Linked DNA regions of Homo sapiens: regions 1 and 3 are each linked to region 2. Evidence: fine-mapped expression QTL. A gene starts in region 2. Each other region holds a variant in brackets. All regions are shown on one strand. Distances are between the middles of the regions. Region 1 overlaps KIAA0753. Region 2 holds the start of PITPNM3 (PITPNM family member 3). Region 3 holds the start of MIR4520-1 (microRNA 4520-1).

Region 1 (2,711 bases), 21 kb before region 2:
GCCCCCTGGCTGTCAGTGCACAATAATAGACACACATTTCTTCAACGTTCCATTCCTAGGTGATTTTCACATTTTTAGTTCCTCAGCATATTTTATTGCTGTGTGTTGACACAATCTGGTATAAAAAACTTTCTCTGGATTCAGAGGAAGTTTGAGGAATCAGGAGAGGACCAGGCCTTCTCCTGTGCCTGGGTGAAGGTACAGACCTCGCTGTGTCTCCGATGAGGTCAGAAGTGTCTCTATTTCATACCACAAAGGAACCCAAGTGGGAGTAGGGAACAGATGGATGGCGCGAAGACCTCTGTGTCTCCCCAGAGAAAGGAAGAAACTTAAGAACCATCATAGCCTGGTCCTCCAACATCTTACAGATCATGTTTTCCAAGAGAAAAGCCTGTGTTTTCAGAAACTCTGAATTCAGAAAAAGAAACGGAATGTGCGTAAGAATCAGGCCACTGCCTGGAAAGACTTTCTCTCAATTCGTAGCCTGAGGCTCAGTGAAGGAAACATGCAGAAAGAATGCCTGAGACGCCCCCAGGGAATAAGGGAACTCTTTATAACCTGTCCAGTGCCGTCATCTGGGATTTTTCTCTGAAGTACAAGAATTTCAGGTGATTTAAGCTGCTTGATCACACTTATTTGTGCAAAATTGATTTTCATTTAATGTTAATGTTTTCCTGCTTAATTTTATATAACTTCAGAATGTAAAGAGCTTCAAGGTAAATTACAGGGTGTTTAACCTGGGGAGTTAAATGTGTACACTTGAATTAATAGGAGCACCGGTTGTTGCTAGTATAAAGTAATTTGTGTGGCAGTTTGTACTGTGCTGAGTTTTTAAAATAAACCCAATATTTTAAAGTATGTGCCTATTTTAAATAACTTACATCTCCTTTTTTTCCCACAGGCAAAGTGAAATGTGATTTACAGAAACCACTGAGAATACTTTTATATGTGATATGACTATAGTGGATTATTTGCCACCCCTTCCCCCCGAGAAAAAAATTAGTGACA[A/G]TAAAAGCTAACATTTATTGAGCACCTACTAGAGCATTGCTCTCCGTGCTTGCCATGTAGTAACTTATTTAATCCTCACCTCATCTCTGTGAGGTGGAGAGCATCATTGTTCCCATTGTATAGATGAATAAAACGAGGCACAGGAGGAGATAATTTGACCAAACAAACTTGGAGTTTACCTGAGCTCATCTTCCTGCCTTTCCCTATCCCCACTCGGCGTGTGCTGGGGCAGTCCCATTCTCACACTTCCTGTTGCAGCTTGTGTCCTGAAAGGCCGAGCCCAGGCTTTGCCTTGTTTCAGGATCTTCCCACTCTCTCCTGCTCCTCCCACCAGGTGGATCTGCCTTTCTCTGACTCATGTGGGTGGAGCTTCAACCAGCCCCAGTGTCCAGGTGTCAACTTTATATCCCTGGCCCATCGCAAACATCCACAGCCAGAGCATTCTCCAAAGACACAAAAATATACTGCAAGAAATAAACATTTTTCTTTGCAAATGGAAGCTAAATCCTTAGAATATAAAAGTTCCCGTTTATCGCCTCGCAGCCAGCCCAGACATCTAGAATTTTTTGTTCTTCATGAACAAGGGCTGACCGTACATCATTCTGTAATTCCCTTCAGCTTTCTCACGAACTATTCGTGTACTATTTCAGAAGCAGAAACACACGAGTTCAGTGTTTTTGTGTTGCATACGCCGTCCCCAGTGTACAGAGACATGAAAATGCACTCCGAGCGCTCCACCGGCACAGCTTGGTCACACGGGATTTCTGTCTGTTTCTGTGCTTACCTCTAGTCTGTTTAGCTCCTTGAGGGCAGGGACCCTGCCTAGCTTGTAGTTGGTGCTCAGTAAATTCTTCTGAATTAATGAAAGGTGAAGGGCAGGCTGATTGACTTTATACGGGGGGGTCTGTCACATCTCATATAGTCCACAGAAATCTATGATGTCCTTTTGTGACCCCGAGATAGAATGCCATTTGAGAACTATAATTCCATCTTGGAGGTACTGCTGCCATTGCAATTCCAGCTCAGATGGCAAGAACTTGCTTCCTTCCTCCTAGAGCAGGGCATGGGCCTCAGCCTCATGCTGCTCCTGACCTTGAGCGAGCCTTGGTCAGGGTGCTCCTGGGGACTAAGCTGGGGCGGCCCAGGGACTGGAGAAGAAGACAGAAGGATGTGCATGGGAGCCCCTTGCCTCTTGTGTTCTGTTACTATTTCAGCACTGTGGTCCCTTCTCCCTCTGCCCGCCGGAGCTGGGGTTTGGAGGAGAGATGGTGAGGAGAGAAGCGCTTTCCTCACTCCACTTCCTCCCTGGGCTCACGGTTCCTGCTTTCCTGAAGGTGGTCCGAGTGTGTTTGTGTGTGTGTGTGTTGGGGGAGTGGGGGAGGTGGAGGCATGAACTGCACTGTGGCCAGTGGGTCTGAAAGGCAGAAGGAAGGGCCTGAGGGAAGCCCCAGGGCCAACAGCAAGAGGAAGGGTCCAAGTCAGAAAGTCCCCTGTGCTCTCTGTGACAGTGTAGGTTTCCATCACGCTTCTGTGTTTCTGAGAGGAGCTCTCTTTATTTTAGCAACGTGAGACAGTAGTGAGAATTCCCTGCAGAGCCTGTAAATTCAGGGGTGTCCACATCATCATGGGCTTATGATCACCACAGAAGTGACCTTTGGGAGGGGCCAGCCTGTGAAAGGGCTCCTGGTTCTCTGGGCTCTTGA
Region 2 (2,757 bases):
GCCAGCACTAGCCAAAAAAAAAAAAAAAAAATTAATAAAAGGAAGAACTCTCACTTAAGATACTGAGCTTCCTGTCCTTGGAGGTAACCAACCAGGAGCTGGAGGACTGCTTAGCAGGAATCTTGTGAATGGAGTCAAAGCCCCAGAGAAGGCACTGGACTGAGAGCCCCCATCTAACCCCATGTGTGCCCTGTTTCCATAGAGGAGCTTGCAGGACCCTGGAGCCTGGACCATGGATGGAATTCTCCAGTTGACCTTTTCCCTGTTAAGTGGAGTGGGACAGGGTGGGTTGGGTGCCTGGCTCTACAGATGGTAACTGGGCTTCAGCCTTACCAATTCCTGGGGGAGGCAGGGCACCCTCTCAGTGGAGGGTTGTTACCTCTCAGGCACCGCCAAATACAATTGGCCATCTCCTGCTCTCTTTTGGGGCTGGACTGTGGATCCCTGCTGCCCCTAAACAGAAGTCATAACCCATATCTCCCCGGACCACAAGGCCTGTCCACTAGAATCTCTGCATCCCGATTTAGGAAGTGGAAGGCGGGTACTGCTCACCACCAGGCCGCTGGGGTCCACAAAGCCTGCTCCAGCCTAGAACCCCAGGTGGATGTGCAAGTGTTTTACTTATCCCTTGAGGGTTAAAATCACGGGAATCCTTTCTCTTTTGAGGTTAGGTCAGACGCCATAAATGATCCAGAACCCCTGGAGCGGGGGCTGATGGAGGGGGTCCCTCTCTTGTCTCTGATCCCAGAGCGACTTTCCTCTTGACTTCGTGGGGGCCTCCCTTGGATCCCTGTCCTCCTTCCTCTCTCCGCTCCCTCTGTCCGTCTCTCCCGGAGCCGGAGCCGGGCTCTGGGTCTCTGGTCTCCTCTGAATTTCTCTCTCTCTCCCTCCACCTCGGCGTTCTGGCCCTAGGAGCGTCTCTCTCCAGCGCTGTCTAATAGTCTGTGCGCCCCTCTCCCAGTCCAGGGCCCCGTCTCTGGCCCGCAGTGTCTCGGGCTGTCTCCGCGTCTCTGAGCCCCTGGGCTGCCGCCCCTCGCGCGCTGCGGTGGCCGCGCGGGCCGGAGCGGAGCGGGCTGGAGCGCGGCGGCCACGGCCCGGGGCGGGGGTGCGGGCCCGCGGGGGCGGCGTTGGGCGCCTTCCTTCGTCAGTCCCTCCCCGGCGGCGCGGGGGGTGGGGTGGGGGGGGGGCGCGGCCGCCGCTCGGCGCCTTTAAGGGAGCGGGAGGGAGCGGCGAGGCGGCGGCGGCTGCGGTGGCGGCAGCCGAGGCGAGCGGGGCGGGGGCGCGGGCGCGGCGCTCGGAGTCCGTTCGGGGCCGGAGGCGGTCGGGGCCGGGCCCGGGAAGCGCGAGGAGCGCGCGTAGCGCCGCCGGAGCCCGCCGCCCGGGACATGGCCAAGGCGGGCCGTGCAGGTGAGGGCGGGCGCGGGGAGGGCAGGGCCGGGGCCCGGGGGAGGGACTCGCGCGTCTAGAGGAGGGGCCGCCGGCCCAGGTGAACCCCTCGCGCAGGTGGGCGGAGGTCCCGGGAGGGCGTAGGGGGCGGTAGCGGGGCTGGACCTCCCGCGCGTGGAGAGGGGGCTCCGCGCGCCCCCCGTCCTTCCTGCGCCCCCGGTCACCTCGGGGGACACCGCGTCCCCTTCTCCACGGCCCCGCCGGAAAGGGCCAGGTCTGCGGCGCCCCGGGCCAGTCCCGCCGTTGGGAGCCCTCTGCACCCCGCGGAGGCCCCGGGCAGACCCGGGCTTCGCCACCGAAGGGGATGTCCCGCGGCCGCCGCTTCGTCCCACACCCCAACGCAAACCGGGACGCGCCCCCTGCTCCTGCAGCTCTCTCCATCCAGGACGCCACAACCCCCCGCCCCAGCCCCCGTCACCAGCTCAGTCCAGAGACCCAGATTCCTTCTCGGGAAGGAGGGGAGCCCCGTGCCGCGCCGGCTGCTGGCCGCCCCGCCCCCTCCCCCATCGACCCTGGGACGCAAAGCCTCAGCTGCGGAGGCCTCTTCTGGGGTCCCGTGGGCTCTGCCCTCCCCCAGGCTCAGACGGTGTAGCCTGTGGTTTGAGGGAGCGGGCATTAGTCATTCGTTCATTCATCCAGCCCGACGTTCATTCACTAGCATCTGCTCTGTGCCAGACCCTGAGCTGGGCACCGGGGCTCAGGCGGACTCAGCCCCCCTGCTGCGCCCATGCTGGGGAGACCCAGGCCCGTGACTCATCGGGCACATTCTGGGCCCGATGGTGCCTTGGGAGGCGGGTGGAGGACAGCTGTGCCCACAGGGCCGGCCATACAGTAGGCGGCAGCAAGCCTGGTCTCGGCAGTGCCTCTTGTGAGGCTGGCGTGTGAGAATCTACCATGAACTCACACCCAACCCGTGACGTTGGCTGGTGCCATGCCGTCCCCCAGGACCGGGCGCGACAGTGAAGGAATGGGTGTGAATACCATCGGGCTGTGTGTCAATCCACCCCCAAGCCCGAAAGCTGCCCGGGACCCTGGGCTGCGGACCCGTCTCCCTGTGCAGGCACTGAGCCTGTAAGATTTAGGTGCCTGAGAATGCACTCCCGTTCTGTCCCCAAGGAGTCCTGTCGGGGTGGGGCCGGTTGTGTGAGGCACAGCCAGTATGGAACACAGCTAAACAGCCTTCTCACTCCCCTCCCTTTTCCCCTCCTGAGGGAGGCACTGTGAGATGACACCAAGGAAGCTGAAAAAGGCTTCTTGCCTCCCTCTTTCCTCCACCGTGCCTGGGTCCTCACCCACCCCGACTCCTTAAAA
Region 3 (2,757 bases), 98 kb before region 2:
TCCGCAGGTTCAAGAGGACGCGGGCGATCGGGGGCGGGACGGATATTGGGCAGGGACGCGGGAGATGCTCAGGGTCTAGAACTGACTGCGCCGGATTCTTGTTTAGAGGGAGGTGAAGAGAGGAAGGAGGCGCGGGTGACACCGGGGGAGGCAGGAGGAGAGGGCTGGGAGGTGGGGAGAGGGGAGGACCTCATCCGGGCATGTTGCTTTGACGTTCCCTGAGACAGACATCCGGATTTGGCGATCTGGGAGAGAGCTAGAGCAGTGATGGGAATTTGGGCTTTCGCGGAAGAAAAAAAGTAACAGGACCGGGTAGAACACCCGGTAGATATGACATGAGATATGACGGGAGGTGGGTCGGGAAATCGAGAGCGTTCTCCTGTCTTGACTCCCCATCCCTTCCCTCTCACCACCCACTCCACCCCAGGTGATAAAGCCTGAAAGGTAGAGATCCAACAGCGCTAGCGGTTGAAACGTTTTTTAAAATAGAGAAAGCGAGAGGACCGACGGCGGCTCCGGTGACTGCTGAGTTTCCAGACAAGGGAGCTCTGTGCAATGAGGGGCGCACAGGAGCATGCCCTCAATTCCAAGAAGATCAGGTAGCCGGAAAATTTATTAAGCGCTTACTGTGTGCCACCTGCGTGTTTTCTGTCCAAATCAGAAAAGGATTTGGACAGAAAACACGCAGGAAGAAGGAATCAACCCCTGGTACAGCAGGCAGGCGAGGTAGGGGTAGGAGTTATGCACGTGTATGCAAGCCTGGATGGCTGGGAAGCCAACCTCCATCTAAAGGCAAGCGCGGACATGCACACACACACACACGCCTCACAAGTTGGATTGCAAGAGAGGGTGAAGTGGGCGAGGAGACCCAGTCAGCCGTGGCATTTGAGGAAGGTACATTTAGGCCACCGAATTCATTCCACCAACTTTGCACACTTGTCTTCCTTGTGCCAGGCTCTGGGACTCATTCCTTTTGAGGGTAAAAGTCTGCCTCCCTGGACTCCTGCCCCTCAGGCGCTCCCACAGCCCGGCACCGCCCCCTCGCCATTCCGGAGCCAGCGCGGGCTAAGCGGGCCTGGCCGGGGATGAGCGGAGCCACCGTCCCCATATTCCTCGGTGCCCCGGGACCGCAAGAGGGAGCCGTGGTTTCCGGAACTCCTCCCGCCCCTCCGGGCTTTTCCTCTGTTAGGCAGGTGGCGATTCGCTGTCTTTGCCTGTTATGGCCGCTGCCGTCGCCCTGGAGACAGGTGAGTAGCGCTCTGAGCCTGGAGTCTTCGCAGATAGAACTCTCCTTGGCCCAGACCTCTTCTCCCGCTTCCCC[TGG/G]GCCTCCTTCCAGGCCTCACTCCCGGCAGGATTAGTATTTGGACAGGGAGGAGAGAAGGCTCTTGCAGCGTCTAGAAAGGCTAAGGTACTCTGCAGTTTTCCTAATTTGGTTTGTTCGCACACCTTTGCTATTCAAACACGACCCCACCAGCTTCCCAGCGTGGGCGAGACTAAGGGAGAGGACTTGTGTCTTAAAGCGTGTCCTCCTTGTGTCTTAAAGCGTGTCCTTGATTGGTTTTCTGCTTCTCACATGAGCTTGCATACGTTTGAAATATCGTCGCCAGACCTGTGTATCATTGTGTTACTTGTGATTCTTATATATGCATATGTTCCATCATCTTTTAGGCTCTCTGGAGTCTCTTGTTCAGCTTGCATCCTAAGTTTTTCTTAACTGATTCAGCACGTGCTTTTGCGAAACTTAATCACTGTTAACAATTGTTACAATGCATTATTAAAATAGGGGAAGCCACAGTTATTACAGCCTACCTTAGAGATCACTGTTAAAATTCCTACATAGTGGCCCATGAGTGGTAGGTATTGTGTCTCATTTGTGTTGCTGTTTTCTTTGATGATTTCTCTTTACTTTTAAAGGTAACCCTCTTCCATGACTGTTCCTTAAAGTGGTGCGCTGTCCCAGTAGACCATGCTCTAGCTTTCCAAGCTGCTAGAACTGTCAGTGTTTCTCAGCCTTGGCACTATTGACATTTTGGGACCAGTGATTCTTCATCGTTGGCAGAGGGGAGGGTGTTGACCTGTGCACTGTAGGATGTCAGGTGGCATCCCCGGACTCTACCCGCTAGGTGCCAGTAGCACCTAATGTGCCACCCACCCCCTCCCAACAACTTTTCAACCAAACTAAAATGTCTCTAGAGGTTGCCATATATCCTCTGGGGGACAAAATCACACTTAGTTGAGAACCACTGTCCCACATTCTACACACAGAAGCCAAAAGGATATTTTTTAAATGTAAATGGCATCATGTCGTTCCCCTGTTGGAAACCCTTCAATGTTTTCCTGTTGACCTTAGAATAATCTCAAATTCCTTACTGTGGCTTAGAAGACCTTCTGTGGACTGGCCCCTGCTTGCTTTTAACTCCTCTCTTCCGTTCTGCTTCCATGTCTATATAATTGCTTCTCTCTCACTCCAGCCACACTGGCCTTCTTTCTGTTCCTTGAACATTCAAAGCTGGTTCCCATCCACCCTTTGTATTTGCTGTTCTTCTGCCTAGAATGCACCTGTTCCAGATCACTGTTCATTCACACATATCTCAGATTACATGTTAACTAATCAGCAAGGCCTTCCCTGACCATTTTATCAAAAGAAGCCACTTACTTCCATTCTCTATCACATTACCCATGTATTTCCTTCATAGTGCTAATCACAATAGAAAATTGTCTTGTTTCATCATTGCTTGTCTGCCTTTTCACCAGAGT

The links. PIP is the estimated chance that this variant, and not a neighbour inherited with it, causes the effect.
Region 1: its variant is fine-mapped to the expression of PITPNM3 in whole blood (TOPMed, PIP above 0.99). The same link has a PIP of 0.9 or more in testis.
Region 3: its variant is fine-mapped to the expression of PITPNM3 in testis (GTEx, PIP above 0.99).

What each region holds. Positions count from the first base shown.
Region 1 is chr17:6,576,472-6,579,182 of GRCh38, reverse strand. It overlaps KIAA0753, which reads left to right. Exons shown (of 19, transcript NM_014804.3): 19 at 1-1,036. Among named protein-coding and RNA genes, the nearest start is that of PITPNM3, 21 kb to the right of the region's middle. The variant A/G (reference allele first, on the strand shown) is at 1,009.
Region 2 is chr17:6,555,035-6,557,791 of GRCh38, reverse strand. PITPNM3 (PITPNM family member 3) reads left to right here and starts at 1,237. Exons shown (of 20, transcript NM_031220.4): 1 at 1,237-1,407. The coding sequence starts at 1,386. RefSeq lists an enhancer at 2,326-2,757.
Region 3 is chr17:6,653,381-6,656,137 of GRCh38, reverse strand. It overlaps C17orf100 (chromosome 17 open reading frame 100), which reads right to left. Exons shown (of 1, transcript NM_001105520.2): 1 at 2,662-2,757. MIR4520-1 (microRNA 4520-1) reads left to right here and starts at 629; the gene lies at 629-698. MIR4520-2 (microRNA 4520-2) reads right to left here and starts at 689; the gene lies at 636-689. RefSeq lists an enhancer at 459-1,031. The variant TGG/G (reference allele first, on the strand shown) is at 1,322.